Linked DNA regions of Homo sapiens: region 2 is linked to region 1. The links come from fine-mapping of genetic effects on gene expression. Tissue or cell type: monocytes. Region 1 holds a variant in brackets; the other region holds the start of a gene. All regions are shown on one strand. Distances are between the middles of the regions.

What was found. PIP is the estimated chance that this variant, and not a neighbour inherited with it, causes the effect.
Region 2: it holds the start of CHPT1, and the variant in region 1 is fine-mapped to the expression of CHPT1 in monocytes (Schmiedel 2018, PIP 0.95).

What each region holds. Positions count from the first base shown.
Region 1 is chr12:101,597,020-101,605,127 of GRCh38, forward strand. All of the region lies in intron 1 of MYBPC1 (myosin binding protein C1), which reads left to right. LOC105369938 (a long non-coding RNA gene) reads right to left here. Exons shown (of 5, transcript XR_001749279.2): 4 at 3,890-4,001; 5 at 1,535-2,536. Among named protein-coding and RNA genes, the nearest start is that of MYBPC1, 6.1 kb to the left of the region's middle. The variant T/C (reference allele first, on the strand shown) is at 3,881.
Region 2 is chr12:101,693,256-101,701,362 of GRCh38, forward strand. It overlaps CHPT1 (choline phosphotransferase 1), which reads left to right and starts at 4,385. Exons shown (of 9, transcript NM_020244.3): 1 at 4,385-4,879. The coding sequence starts at 4,607. It also overlaps a transcript of MYBPC1 not described here. RefSeq lists an enhancer at 3,859-4,108 and silencers at 4,329-4,668, 4,929-5,118.

The DNA.
Region 1 (8,108 bases):
AACTGATTCTTAAAGGAACTGTACCTTGAAAAGCTTTCCTTAGTGAAATAATTGCATTTTAATATTGTTTACATTAGAAGAGTAAGGAGTACGGCAATTCATGAACTATTCTGGTCCTTTCTTCTTCTCCTAACTGTGATTTCATTTTCACTGGGGTTAGTTTGATTGCATATAAGCCTCCCTCTGAAAAATAAAACATGGCCTAGAGCCAGTTCTTCAGAATCATTTCAAAATACCTGCAGAAACCCTCCCAAAGAACAGGCTCCTCCAGCCCATATGGGTCTTCTGAACTCTTCCCCACAGCTCGTAAAGCCATGCCCAGGAAGGCCATGACCACTTGCTGTGAATCTTAATAGGACACATGAGCTGGTTTGGCCCTCCTAGGATCCAGGAGGATCTGGCAACTCCTCAAAAGAGGCTGAGTTTTCAGCACCTGAAGGTACAAAAAATGTCTCACTCAACTACTTCCCAGCCTACCGTGGCCTAATTCTGGGAGTTTTCTTCTTAGATCTTGGGAGAGCTGGTTCTTCTAAGGAGAAGGAGGAAGGACAGATGTAACTTTGGATCTCGAAGAGGAAGTCTAATGGAAGTAATTAGTCAACGGTCCTTGTTTAGACTCTTGGAATATGCTGGGTGGCTCAGTGAGCCCTTTTGGAGAAAGCAAGTATTATTCTTAAGGAGTAACCACTTCCCATTGTTCTACTTTCTACCATCATCAATTGTATATTATGTATTCTTTGGAGAACTATGTTATTTGTACTGTCTATTCCAGATAAAACTTACCTTACACCACTTTGGATTCTTACAGAACCTAAGGCCTAGTACAATTAAGTTATTCCGATCAAATTGGGAGGATGTTGTAGGCAGTTTCAGATTTGTGGGGATCTCCCAGGATGCCTTTGATACATTCATTTATATATCAATTATTAATTGAGTACAAGTAAGTGCCCGAAAGTTAATTGCCCCCGGTTCCTACTGTGTAAAGAAATCACCTTTCTTTTTTTTTTTTTTTTTTTTTAAGACAGTATCTCACTCTGTGGCCCAGGCTGGAGTGCAGTGCCACAGTCTCCGCTCACTGCAGCCTTTGCCTCCCAGGTTCAAGTGATTCTTGTGCCTCAGTATCTCAAGTAGCTGGGATTACAGGTGCCCACCAACACGCCCAGCTAATTTTTGTATTTTTAGTAGAGACGAGGTTTCGCCATGTTGGCCAGGCTGGTCTCGAACCGCTGACCTCAGGTGGTCCACCTGCCTCTGCCTCCCAGAGTGCTGGGATTACAGGCATGAGCCACTGTGCCCGGCCAAGAAATCACCTTTCACTGGAAATTTCTCTTTTCCAGTCAAAAAGAAATTTTATCAACCTCAAACTAGACAATTGCAATAGCCTTTCTTCCGTGGCAGAATCTCTGTTCATTAAAGAATAGTATGAATGGCTGTTAAACCCATAAAAATGATTTCCTCAGAATTTTACCTCTGGAATATGTAATGATTAAAACCATAAAGCCTGATTCTTTAACATCCTGCGACAACTGTTAACTGGATTCCTTTAATTTTTTATTTATTTTTTATCTTTTTGAGAAAAGGTCTCATTCTGTCACCCAGGCTGGAATGCAGTGGTGCAATCATGGCTCACTGCAAACTCTGCCTCCCAGGCTCAAGCAATCCTCCCACCTCAGCCTCCCCGGTAGCTAGGACCACAGATGCATGCCATCATGCCCAGCTAATAGCTGATTTTGTTATTTTTAGTAGAGATGGGGGCCTCACAATATTGCCCAGGCTGTTCTCGAACTCCTGGGCTCAAGAGATCCACTTGTCTCTGTCTTCTAAAGTGCTGAGACTACAGGTGTGAGCCACTGTGCCTGGCCTATTAACTGTCAGATACTATAAAACCCAGAAAAATTCTCTTCTAAAACACTGAGTTGAGGCCTTAACATGAATTTCACTTTTTGTTTCTGATTTATCAGACCTTATTATATTTAATGTACTTAACTTGTCCGAAAAGGCAAAAGTTCCTCTTTGGTGCTTGTGTGTCATTCGAAAAATCTCAAGAGAGTCACTGTAGTTTTCTCATGTTCCGTGTAAGATCTCTTCTTGAAAACTCAAACGTATGGCCAATCACAGGTTCCTTTATGACCATAATTTTAAGGTGCCATTCTGATAACTTTAGGAAGCAAAGGCATGGCTTTGTTACTGCAGATTATTTTGCTGTGTCAACATACAATATTCATCTTATCCATCTTGGTCTACATTTCAATAGGAATAGATGGGACCATGGTAATAGAGAACAGTTTTGTTGTTGTTGTTGTTGTTGGGGTCCATAAGGGTTTTTCCATTTCTGTATCTTTTTTTTCTTGCTCTCTAGAGATTTCATCACATTTTAAAGTTTTGCCAAGCCAAAAAGCTACCTGAATGTAGAGCAGCATTCATCCCCTCTTGCCTATTTCTAAGCATTTCTCAGGGCTTAGTCATCCATCAGAAAAGGACCTCCCTTGATGGGAAAACTCCTTCTCATATCTCTTCTTTGACCTTCAGTTTCTACCTGCAAGAGAGTGAATGGCCTATTTCAAACACCGAAATCAATTTGTCTTTGGAAAGTCATCTTATATACAAATATTATCCTTACCTCAAATTGGGGAAAGGTTAATAATTTATGCAGAAAACTAAGAGAAAGGAATAGGGGAGGAGGAAAGATAGTTTATCAAGGGCAATTGTTTCCCTTTTGACTTCAAATGGTTCATCGAGGCCAAGCTGATGATTTCAATTGAAAATAAAGAAGTTGTATGAACGAATGCCATCATATTTTTTCCTCCTGAGAAAAACCACCATGCTGTGCTGGAGATTCATGGCATATATTTGAGCTCTGTGTTGTAAGAAGGAATACCCTAGGGCAAATGCGTGCTAGAGGGGCTTAATACTTGGCAGAATCCTTCTTTTTCAGTAGCCTGCTTTTATGACTGCTCCGACTGCACCTGTTAGGAAGATAAATAAAGGACTGGCCAATTCTTTCCTCTGAAGCGCCCTAAATATATCACTTTAAAAAGACTTTGGAAAAACAAGTTGTATCCTTACTTCTCACCCAGTAAATCTAAAGAAATTCCCTCTTGTTCCCAGGCCTTTCAAACAGTGAAGTCAGGAGTAAGGGAGACTGTGGACTGGTCAAAGGTGGAAGTTAGACTCACTAGCTGGTCTAAGGAATCCAGGAGGGTGGAAAACATGAAGAACTTACAATCCTTTATGCTCTCAATGACTCACTTTATTTTGGCCATGAGACACAGCCTTGAAACTTTTTTTTTTTTTTAGGCTCTGTATACACACACAATTCATAGAGTTTCCTTTTTAACAGCAATTTCAAAGTATCCCCGAATCAAACATGAATGTTGAAGTCAACTACCCAGACTGAAGTTGCTTTTAAAAAATGCTTGGACACAAAAACAAATAAATAAGTGGTCTCTTTAAAAACTTGAATAAATACAAAATGACATTTTTGCAATACTTTTGTAAACAAATACATTCTTCTTTTCAATTTTGTATGGTTGTGAGAGGAGATTGCTGTGTAATTATTGCTATTGTTTTTACAGTCCAAGGAAGCATTTTTGTTACTTTTATTTAAAATTATTGCAATTGTTTTATTTAAAAATTATTTTTAGGCTGTTTGTGGACACAGAGAAGAATTTTGATTATAATTAATAATGACTATTTTTATCTTCACTGCTCCTTAATTAGTCTATGAAAACTATATTAAGAGACACAAAATACTCTTGGCTGCCAGTATGTTCTGTGGTAATTCTAAACTTCATCTCTAGACATACTTAAGTGTGTTAGATGATAAAGAACAGGATTAAAGTTCTAGCAATCAAACATAAGTATGGAAATTTTAATTTCA[T/C]GTGTGTACCTGAGAGCATGTGGCCACATCTTCTTTGTTATTATTCCATGTTAGTTCTTGATGGAAACAGATGTCTTTTCTGGAATCCATGGTTTGTTCAAAGTACTGCATCCTGGGGAAACTGAATAAATACACAGAAAGGTAGTAGCTGAATTAGTGTTCTGAGTTAGGTTAATCATGAAGTAGCTACTGTTTATTCATGAGGGGTTTCCTAAAATTTGAGAGCATACCAGTTAAGGAAAGCCAAACTGTGAAAAAGAAGAAAAGACTTTGTCACTTAATTTTCTACATGTATGCAAATTATCTCATAACTGGATAAGAAGAGGGCTTCTGTCCTTGCAGCTTTTTACAAAGACAGCCCCCCCAAAGTCAAAGTGATCATACTGTCTTGTCGTAATTCTGCTCTGTGTGGATAGGCTCAGTTTTAATTTACAAAGAGTATGTTTGTTTTAGACAGCCCAAAGATGGACCACAGGCCAAATTTCAAGATGTTCCCATTCATGGGACAGAGTATTTATGGGCTTTAACGTACATTTTCAGAGTAAACTTTTAGGTCCCATCAGATTGGGGCATGAATTGATTGATTTGGCAGAGGCGGAGACCAGAATCATTCAATCTCACACTTATTTCTCTTTCTATAATGAGTTCACAAAAAGCTAACTGTAATCTGACTTTCATTATGCCTTTCAAGTCTAAATCCACTTTGATAAGACTTGCCCTTTTATACTCCCTTAGGAATCCTTTTTAGGCCAATTTGGCACATCAGGGCAGCGTCTAAAATTACATTTAATAATATGTCAAATGTTAGATCTTATGATTTTGTTCTATTCTTTTTTTTTGATGTGTATTTAGCTATTTTGGTAAGTATTCTTCTTCTCTAAAATTGTCCAAATCTTTCCTAAATACTCTTTATAAATTGCTTTGCTTGCATCTGGTGATATCGTTTGCCTTCTAAAAATTTTAATGAATCTTGGAACAGAATGCTCTACTTAAAACTCAAAATGTGTCCTTTTTAATTCTACATTTTGTCATGTTTAGAGTTAGATGTCTTTAGGGTTGTTATGCACACAGTATGTGTCTTGGCTTTTTCTTTATGCATCTTAAATATTATGCATTATTAAACATGGTGACATAAAAAAAATTATACTATTTGTAGAACATTCTAGACAGCTCAAATTCCAGCTGCACCATAGACTGAATTACTTACACTTTGTATGCCTCTGTTTCCTCATCTGTATGTGAATAAAACAGTATCAACTCTTTGGGTCTCAGTAAGAATTAACTGAAATACACCAGGTAAAGTGCTTATTTTATCTTATTTTATTTTTTATTTGAGATGGAGTCTTGCTCTGTCGCCCAGGTCAGAGTGCAGTGGCATGATCTCGGCTCACTGCAACCTTCACCTCCCTGGTTCAAGCAATTCTCCTACCTCAGCCTCCTGAGTAGCTGGGGTTACAGGCATGCGCCACCACGCCCAGCTAATTTTTGTATTTTTTTGGTAGAGATAGGGTTTCAACATATTGGCCAGGCTGGTCTCAAACTCCTGACCTCAAGTGATCCACCTGCCTCGGCCTCCCAAAGTGCTGGGATTACAGGCATGAGCCACCATGCCCGGACAGGTAAAGTGCTTAGAACAGGGCCTAACATATGGAAAGATTTCAAGCATTTTCCTCCTAAAGCAGTAAACTCAGAAATCTTGTCTGGCACAAGGTATTAAATGCCTCATATTTCACATAAACTGATGGCATTTCCCTCAACATAAGGGATGTAACAACCACTGCTCACCTCCTCACTAGTGTAATATTTATAATACACGCCAAGAAAGCTGCTATGATAGTCATAACCATCATTCCCACCACTATATTTCCTTCTTTTACTTGTGGTGATACATCTTCGCTTTCACCCATAGAAGCTCAGATCAAATAAAAGGTCTATACTCCATGACCTCTGTTGTGTTCTTACTGAAATGAGCCATGTCCAATTCGGGGGTCTGTAGTTGTCAGCATAAGGTGATAACGGTTGGGTTGTTTCTTCACTGTTCTTGTGGGGACATGGCCTTTCCCACTTAGATGAAAGAGTTACCCTACAGAGTTGAACAATATCTATGTCTGTCTCCAAGGGTTATAAGTCTTGGGTTTGTGGGACTTTACAATTTCTCTCCCTGGCCAGGCGTGGTGGCTCATGCCTATAATCCCAGCACTTTGGGAGGCTGAGGTGGGAGGATCACCTGAGGTCGGGAGTTTGAGACCAGCCTGACCAACATGGAAAAACCCCATCTCTACTAAAAATACAAAATTAGCAGGGCATGGTGGCGCATGCCTGTAATCCCAGCTACTCAGGAGGCTGAGGCAGGAGAATCACTTGAACCTGGGAGAACGGAGGTTGTGGTGAGCCAAGATCGCGCCATTGCACTCCAACCTGGGCAACAAGAGTGAAACTCCGTCTCAAAAAAAAAAAAAAGAAGATTTCTCTCTCTTATCAGGGGTGCTTTTTGGTGGATAGGGTCTTCCTCAGTCTGCGCTTTCCTGAGATGACCACATAAAGAACTCTCCATGACCACATATGGATGTGGTGGGTGATTGATTGAGTGTCACTGTGTTTATTGCGGTGGAATTTTATTTTTATGACCCCACCTGGCGTCAGGACTCTTCTTCCTCTATTTTTAAAAAGTCACCCAATGTGAGGTCCAGCAACAGTTTGGAGCAAGGCCTTTAAGAAATTTATCCTATAACCCTATAGCCACATAAATAAGTGATACAAGATCAGGTACAATGGCTCATGCCTGTAATCCCAGCATTTTGGGAGGCCAAGGCCAGAGAATTGCTTAAGCCCAGGGGTTTGAGACCAGCCCAAGCAACATGGTGAAACAGCATGAAAAAATACAAAAATTATCTGGATGTGGTGGTGTACACCTGTAGTCCCAGCTACTTGGGAGGCTGAAGCAGGAGATTCACTTGAGCCCAGGAGGCTGCAATGAGCCATGATCATGCCACTGCACTCCTGCCTGGGTGGCAGAGTGAGACTCTGTCTCAAAATAATAATAACAATAATAACTGATTCAAGATCCCCAAAAAAGACACAGTAAAGGAGGAAACTGTTAACAATTCAAATTGCTTTTGCAATAATTTCTTTTTGACCTATGCTAAAATTTTAAGCTCCTTCAATCTGAGTAAATCTTCCCCTGCAAAACACACCCCATTTGATTCTTTAAAACATGGTAAGAGTAGTGAGGAAGGCAAGTCCTCAGATCTTAGCAATTTTCCCCCAGCCCCATGTTAACAATGAGAAGCTATTTGTTGCTATGTAATAAGGACCATATTTTAATCCTCTTCCTGTGTGAAATGACATCCTGAGATGAAACTTGCATAATTAGAAGGACAAAAGAATGAATTGACTAGGGGAGGAAAAAAAACCCTGTAGATTCAGGGAAATTCCAAAGGTTGAATAATGAGTCATTGAATATTTACATGATCAAGGTACAATTAGACTTCATCTATTCAGAACATTAGAGTACAGTACAGTCTTTGGCAACATTCGACCATAGTAAATAAATATGGATTAAATTGATTGAATCATTCTGAATAGCTGGATTCTCTGCACAGCTAAAGGTTAATTTTGTTATATAACCTCAGAGCCTTATTTTTTCCACCAGTTTGAATAGAAACATTCTTAAAATGTAATATATTACTCCTTGCTTTAAAAAATAAAGTACAGTGGATATAATTTGTCTTAAATTATAGATATCAGTTATTAGTAGCATGTGACACCCTGAGGGCCCAAATTATTTGCTCTTTTGAAAAATGGACTCATATTGATTTGTATTTTGAATTTCTTTCCAATTTTTCTTAGCTTTCCTACTTTATCCCTCCTAGAAGTGTGCTGTCTTCTTTAGTACTCTTGTCAGTCAGCATATGAAACTGTTCCCCTCACTCCCCTTTGTCCTTTATTATAGACGCCATTCCAGGTAATTAATCTGGCTGAGTAGAGTTTAGCACCACCTAAGGCACAACATTTAAGAAGGCACTGACTTTCTGGGTCACCAAAATGCAGGTTCAGCCCCTTAAGTGACCTCCTTAAATTTTGCTCCTCAGGCACCCTGCTTACCTTTCCCAAGTCCCAGGCCCTGGGTTTACTGAGGAGCTAGGGCCTTCTTCCATGAGGAAAACACAGAAACTCTTAGTGCCTGGAACGTAGGAGCTTGAGATAAATGCAGAGGCCCTTCAGAGGC
Region 2 (8,107 bases), 96 kb after region 1:
ATTTTTAAATTATGACATTTCATATTTGCAAAATATACAAATATGCCATCTATATCTATGTAGATATATAGTTACATAGATTGCATAAATAATAGTAAAATGAACATGTTACTACTACTCAGTTAAAAAACTGTGATTGAGACAGCTTGATGGCCCCCCACAATACCCACTCTCTCACTTTTCAATAATAATAGAAATGTTTTGGCCGATTGTGGTGGCTCACACCTGTAGTCCCAGCATTTTAGGAGGTCAAAGCGGGAGGATCATTTGGGGTCAGGCATTTGAGACCAGCCTGGCCAACATGGCGAAACCCCATCTCTACTAAAAATACAAAAATTAGCTGGGTGTGGTGGCACATGCCTATAGTCTCAGCTACTCAGGATGCTGAGGCAGGTGAATCACTTGAACCTGGGAAGAGGTTGCAGTGAGTTCAGATTGCGCCACTGCACTCCAGCCTGGGTGACAGAGCAAGAATCTGTCTCTAAATAAATAAATAAATAAATAAACAAGTAAAAGAAATTTTAGCTGGGCAGGTGGCTGTCTGGCTAAAGATTGCATTTGCAGGCTCTTTTACAGTTAGGCATAGCAGCCATGTGGCCAGGCTCTGGCCAATGGGATGAGAGCAGAAGTGATGTGTGCAACCTTTGATCATGGCCTTCAGAAGAAAGGAGCATAGCAGCCCCTTCTCTTTTTCCCCTTCCTATTGGTTGGGAGTCATGGCCAGCCATTTTTGATCACAAGGACAAGGGCAACATCTGAAAGGCGGCAGACTAATAAAATGGAAGAAGTCTGTGTCTCTGACACCATCGAGCTGCCATGTAGCCCTACCATGCCTACCCAGACATCAATGTGGGAAAAATAAACCTCTATTCCATTTAGGTTGCTGTAGTTTGCCCAGCTGTAGTCTAAAAAATTACCAATACCTTTGAAACTTGCCATGTGCCCCTCTATAATTGCATTTACCTTCCTTTCTATCAGGAGTAACCACTATCAGGATTGTACTTATAATTCTTTTCCTTTTCTTCATAGCTTTGCCACATGGGAGCTGCAAAGTGCAGTCACATGTTTTTGAAGTTTATATAAGTAAAATAATACTGTGTGTATTTTGCCTATGGCCTGCTGTTATGGACAGAATGGTATCCTGCCCCTGCTCCACCCCCAATTCATATGTTGAAGCCGTAATCCTCCACAATGTGATGGTATTTGGAGATGGAGCCTTTAGGATATTGGATATCATGAGGGTGGGGCCTTCATGATGGGATTAGTGCCTTTATAAGGACTTTATAAGGAGACACCAGAGAGCTTCCTCTCTTTCTCTCTCTGTCTGTCATGTGAAGACATAGAAGGTGGCCATCTGCAAGCCAGGAAGAGAGTTCTCACTAAGAAACACACTTTGACTTTGGACTTCCCAGCCTCCAGAACTGTGAGAAATAAATTCCTGTTGTTTAAACTATTCAGTCTACGGTATTTTATTATGACAATCCAAGCTGACTAATACATCTGCTTTTTTTTTTCACTCAACATATGCTTGTGCAATTCATTCATGTTCATAAGTGTACCTATAGTTCATTAATTTTTTACTGCCATATTAAACTTGCTATATAATATTAAATTACTTGAAAATACCAGTTTATTTACCCATTCAATATTAGTGGACATATAAGTTATTTACAGCTTTTAGTTATTGTACAGACAAAGGTGTCATGAGTATTCTTATACTTATCTCCTAGGATACATGTGCAAGAATTTCTTTAGGATCTGTTTCTGGATCAGAATTGTGGTGTCAGAGTACACACATCTTCAACTTCACCAGATCATGCCAGGTTGTTTTTCAAGTGGTTGTAACCATCTACTCTTCCTAGCAAACACTTCCACTTGGGTACGCCACATAATTAAGTTCTGGCCAATGAGATACATAATACAACAGTCCCCTTATCTCCAGAGACATATTCCAAGACCCACAACTGTTGCCTGAAACTATGGATAATGCCGAACCCTATATGTACTATGTTGTTTCTAATAACCAAGATGGCTAATAAATGAATAAAGGACAGGTGGCTTATATAGCAGGGATACACTGGACAAAGAGATGATGTAAGTCCTGAGTGGAGAAGAGTGGGACTGGGTGAGATTTCATCACGCTACTCAGAATGGCATGCAATTTAAAACTCACACTTTATTTCTGGAATTTTCTATTTAATATTTTTGGACTGTGGTTGACTGTGGGTATCTAAAACTGCAGAAAAGTAAAACCAGGGACAAAGGGAGACTACTGTATGGAGAAGTGTTGTTTGGGAGTTTTGGAGAGGCACCCCAGTTTGCTCACCAGCCAGTGATATCTACTTTTTGTTTTTCCTGTCCTCTTACTCCTTCCTGCTGCTTGAAACACAAATAAGATGACTGGAGCTTCACCAGCCATTCTGAATCATGAGATGGCCTTATAGATACAAGTCAGAGAGGATATTGGAGCAGAGAGACAGAAAAGCCTGAGTTCCTGATGACCATGGAAACATCGTACCAGTCTTGGAGTGCCAATTCTGTACTTCTTTTATGTGAGAGAGAAATAAATTCCTGTTGTCTAAGCTATTCAGTCTGTGGTATTTTGTTATGACAATCCAAGCTGACTAATACACCTGCTTCTTTTTTTTTTTCAGTCAACATATGCTTGTGCAATTCACTCATGTTCATAAGTGCACCCTGGAACATTACCATGTTCCAGGGCTTCTCCTATAGAAACAGAACATAGCCCAGTTGATTATTTTTTATTCTGATTGATTTTTAGGAGTTCTTTACATAATCTGGGTTCTACTCATTGTGGGTTTTGAGGGAAATACCTTTTCCCAGTTTATGGCTTGTCTTTTCATTCTCTTGATGACGTCTTTTGATGTACATTAAAAATTATCTTTAATACAGTGAAATCGGCTAATCTAGAAAAGGATTTTTTCCTTGGACTGTTCATGGCATCGGTAAATTAAAAAGTAGTTACTGTCAAGTTCACTGCACATAAACCAGCATTGTTAAAAGTGGATCTCCATCATTCCATTTCCTTTCCTGCATTTGTCAGCATCGTTTTTCACACTAAAGATGAGGAGATCCATATTCCTAAGACATATACGCTTGGTCTGTAGAGACCCTCATTGCTCTAAGGCAGTGGTTGCCAGTTTTTTCCTTAAAGGGCCTAGTAGGACATAGTCCAGGCTTTGCCAGCCATACGGTCTGTCACAACTGAATTCTGCTGCCCTTGTAGCATGAAGGCAGCCAAACAATAGGTAAGGAATAAACATGGCTTTATTCGTGGCACTGAACTTTGAATTTCATATAATTTCACAACACAAAATTGTATTCTTTTGATTTTTTCCAATCATTTAAAAATGTCAAAACCATACTTAGCTGGAGGGCTGTAGGAAAACAGGTGGTGGGCTGGGTCTGGCACACAGGCAGCAGTTCGTGGACCCCTGTGCCAAGTGTTTGACGAAGCCCGTGAGGCAAACTGCACTTGCCGATAGAGGTTGCGCCACACAAGTGTCTTGGAAGCAATTTCTGGCTTGTCCTAGGCCTTAGAAAGTGCGTGCAGATCAGAGCCATGAAGTGAAGAGCAAAGCAAGTGACAGGCCTGTCTCAGGTTGTGCAACAGAACGTGTTTATGACAGATGTCCCCTGTCCAAGTGAGTGCACTGTGAGATAAGGGGCCGGTGACCTACCAATGCGTGTGGCAAGCCAGCCTGTTCCCCCTTGCAGGGGGAGGACACTCCTGCCCTTTATTCCAGGGAAGAGTATGTGTAAAAATATTCACCCTTGTTGGTATCAAATGCGCTGAAGAAAATAGGTATCGGGGTTTCAGCCATTCGGTCTCCTTGTTAGTGTTTCTAAGCCCTGATTTTCAGTTTCAAAACCTTGGTCTCTGAATCCGCAGTGATGGGTCTCTAGAGCGAATACATGGCAGGGCCGCCTTCCTCCGTACAGAAAGGGAGAATTGTGCTTGTGTGTTTTACCAAGCAGGACAGATGGGGCCGTCACCCCCGTGACCCGAGCCCTGCAAAACTGTGTTCTCACACGAAAACCCCCAGGCTCTGCGGGCAGCGTGGTCCTGCAGTGGCTAACACTGGGCGACCGGAGTCGTGTTCCGACCCCTAGGAGAGGAACCGGCTCGGTCGTGGTGCAGCCCGCGAGGAGACGACCTCAGGGCGTAATCCGACGCCGTGGGTTAAGACATCAGACCTCAGGCGCAGTGCAGCCGGCCCCTGGGGAGTCAAGGACCTTGATCGCCGATAACAAGTTGCCGTTGGCGGGCGCCGAGGGTGACCCGCGAGCGCGGCACCCGCCTCCCCGCCCCTAGCAGGACCCCCTCCGCCCCGCCCCCAGCCGGACCCCTCCCCGAGGCCCCGCCCCACCCGCGAGCCGCAGCCGCGGCCCCACAGCTTCTGGGGCTGGGGCCCCGGCAGCCGGGCAGGCCGGCCTGACCTCGACCTCCGCCGTGCGGGCCCGACCGGTGAGTCCAGCCCGGCAGTCGCAGGACCCGGCCGCCAGCCTCTCCCTCCACCTCTCCCTGCCCCCAGCGCCAGGCGCGGGCTGCGCTCGGTGGCGGCGGCGGGGCCCTCAGGCGGCCATGGCGGCAGGCGCCGGGGCCGGGTCCGCGCCGCGCTGGCTGAGGGCGCTGAGCGAGCCGCTGAGCGCGGCGCAGCTGCGGCGACTGGAGGAGCACCGCTACAGCGCGGCGGGCGTCTCGCTGCTCGAGCCGCCGCTGCAGCTCTACTGGACCTGGCTGCTCCAGTGGATCCCGCTCTGGATGGCCCCCAACTCCATCACCCTGCTGGGGCTCGCCGTCAACGTGGTCACCACGCTCGTGCTCATCTCCTACTGTCCCACGGCCACCGAAGAGGTAGGGCTGGCCGATCGCCCGAGCCGGGCCCCAGATGCGCTGCGGGCGGGTCGCTGGAGGCGCCGGGGGAAGGGCGGACCCACGCGCGGCTGAGCCTCTCCCGGGCCCCGGAGGGGCGGACTGGCCACTGCCCCGGGCGGTGTCCGCCCTGGGCCGCCTGGAGACTGTCACGCCACTATCCCAATCCCGTGACCATCCCAAGCCTCCCCTGGGCAGCGGAGGGGCTGTTAAGGTCACTGCCCCAGGTCCTATGTCCGCGCAGATCCTCCCCACGGCCGCGGACGGGCCGGAGGGCGCCTGCCCAGCCGCTATCCCATGCGGCGCCAACCTGTGAGACGGACCCGCGGTCGGGTGCTTTGCACACTGGGGACTGAACACCCCCATCTCCGTCCTGCCTGGCACAGGGACTTGTGCCAAGCCCGAGACGCCCTTTGAATACTTTCGTAACCGTTCGTTTCTGGAAGGTTGAGCTAGTGATCTTGAAATGACCGGTAGCACTGATCAAAGATGAGTTAAGAGGTAACTTCCTCTTTGCTTCATCGACTTTTTCAAGAAAAACAAACTGGAATGTTATCAAGGCAATAATTTTTTTGTCATCACAACCTAGGGATTAAAAAAACCCCAACATTTTATTAGCAATAATTACATTTGACCTTTGTACAAAATAAGGAGTAAATATAGGCTTTGGATAGCTGTTCATCAGAAGCACCCTTTGGGCTGAGTGTGGAGGGATAGGGGGCAGAGTGGAGTTCACTCCCATCTATAGTTTATACTACGTGGGATAAATATTACATTGCACATTCTGTGACATTACTTTCTATTCTCTGCTCCAAATAGTGAAGTCCCTTTATAATCATTTGAGTGTAGGCCTTGTGGAGGACTCATGGAGGTTGAGGTTGGATTAACAGAAATACAGTGGAAATATTTCATGCCCTCCATGCATGCATCCATTTTGTTGTTGTTTTTGAGACAGGGGTTTACTCTGTCACCCAGGCTGGAGTGCCGTGCCGTGGCTCGATCTCGGCTCACTGCAACCTCCGCCTTCAGGGTTCAAGCGATTCTTCTGCCTCAGCCTTCCAAGTAGCTGGGATTACAGGCGCGTGCCACCACGGCCGACTCACTTTTGTGTTTTTAGTAGATACAAGGTTTCACCATGTTGGCCAGGCTCATGCATCCTTTAAAAACAAAAATTTGATCGAGCCTACATTTTAAAATATCTTGTCAATGGATTGGTATGCTTATTATGTATTTCTTTTCTTTTTTTTTTTTTTGAGACAGAGTCTCGCTCTGTCACCCAGGCTGGAGGGCAATGTGGTGATCTCGGCTCACTGCAACCTCTGCCTCCTGGGTTCAAGCGATTCCCTTGCCTCAGCCTCCTGAATAGCTGGGACTACACGTGCCTGCCACCACGCCCGGCTAATTTTTGTATTTTTAGTAGAGACGGGGTTTCACCATATTGGCCAGGCTGGTCTCGAACTCCTGACCTCAAGTGATCCGCCTGCCTCGGCCTCCCAAAGTGCTGGTATTTACAGGAGTGAGCCACTGCGCCAGGCTTATTATATATTTCTTAATAGACATTCCCATTGTCATTTGCCATTGCTATTCATTTACATATTACATATGAAAAAGTAAGCTGCTTTAGTTTTTGGCTGTTTTGCTGCCTGTTTCTAGAATTTACCAGAGGGAGTGTGTTAGAATGAAAGGATAGCTGGGTTGGAAGTGGAGGTCTTGGTTTCTAACTGGCTCTTCCACCACAGACCTGCTGGGTCTGTGTTCCCACAGATACAATAGAAAATAATGCCTGCCAAAACAACTTGACAAGGATGCAGTGAGGACCAAATGATATATATGCAGATAAATGTAAAAGATTGCGATGTGCCTAACAAATTAAAAATATCACTCAACACATTAAAAATATTACTGTTATCAGACAACATCCTGAAAACACATAATAAAATTTAGTTTTGATTGGGTCCAGATTTAGCTAACAGCATTTGAATGTTTCTGATATTGGCCAGTTAAGTTGTGGACTCTTCAATGTTATTATTAATTTAAGAAGCATTTGTTGAACACTTAGAAAGAGCAGGGCTTACCAAAAAAGTCAAGAGCTTCTGCCTAGGGAAGTAAAGGGAGGCCTGATGGAAGAGGTACGTTTATGATTAATTAGTTTTTAGGATCAGCCTCATGTGAAAAAAAAAAAAAAAAGGGTGGAGGGTGGGGATTGGAGGCATTTAAAAATAAAGTGCAAAATCAAATGGCCCAAGAAGGGTAAATGAGAGTTAAAAACAAGAGTTTCTGAAATGTATGTCACTAGAACCTTCATATGCTTCTGAGTGACTGATGCAGGGAGGGGAAACGCCATTACAGGATCCACATTGCTTGTTTGGTGAAAGCCCAGCAACAGTGTGAAGAGTGTAGCAGTTTCTGGCTATTTTCTCTTAAGTTCATAGAACTAGCAAATGACTGGATCAGGTAGGATTCAGATCTAAGTTGGTATGACTTCAAAAATAAAAAGATCCTATGTTTTACATAATACAAATATGTAAAGTGCTTTCACATCCATGGTTGCATTTGTGTCTTGTTATCAGCCAAAGAGGTTAGCAAGTTTTCCGCTTCCTACAATGGCCCTCCTACCACCTCAGTATTTCTTCTATCCATCTATCCTGAAGTAACAGTAGTATATGTTTTCATAAGAGGAAATTGAAGCCCAGAGATGTCAAGTGACTTTCAACTGGCTTGGGACTTGTTTTCTGATTCTCAGACTTAAGAATTCTTAGTGTTTTTTTCAGACTTGACAGATTGCTTCCAGAAAGAGTCAGCAAAAACACATAAGGTTTTTCGATTTAGATGCTTGGGCTTATCTACTCATATAGGCTTTAATACTGAGTGCATGAATAATAACATTTGATACGTTTTTAAGCATGATGCTAATTTCTAGAACATGACTGGGGATAAAGGGAAACTAATAGAAAAAAGTTGTGATTTATATTTAGCTTCTGCAAACTGCTTTTCAAGCCATCATTTCCAATAAGGAACTTTGTACTCCAGCCAAATTGAACTTCTTACTATAACAAGGATTTCTCTCCTTCTTATCCCTCTCTTTTCCCCTTCCTCTTCCTTTCTTCTGTACCAGTTATCCAACTATGTACCCATCTTTCAATACCCAATTCTAACACTATATCCTTATGAAAGTTATCTTCCTTTTCCTAAGTCAAATCAACCACTCTG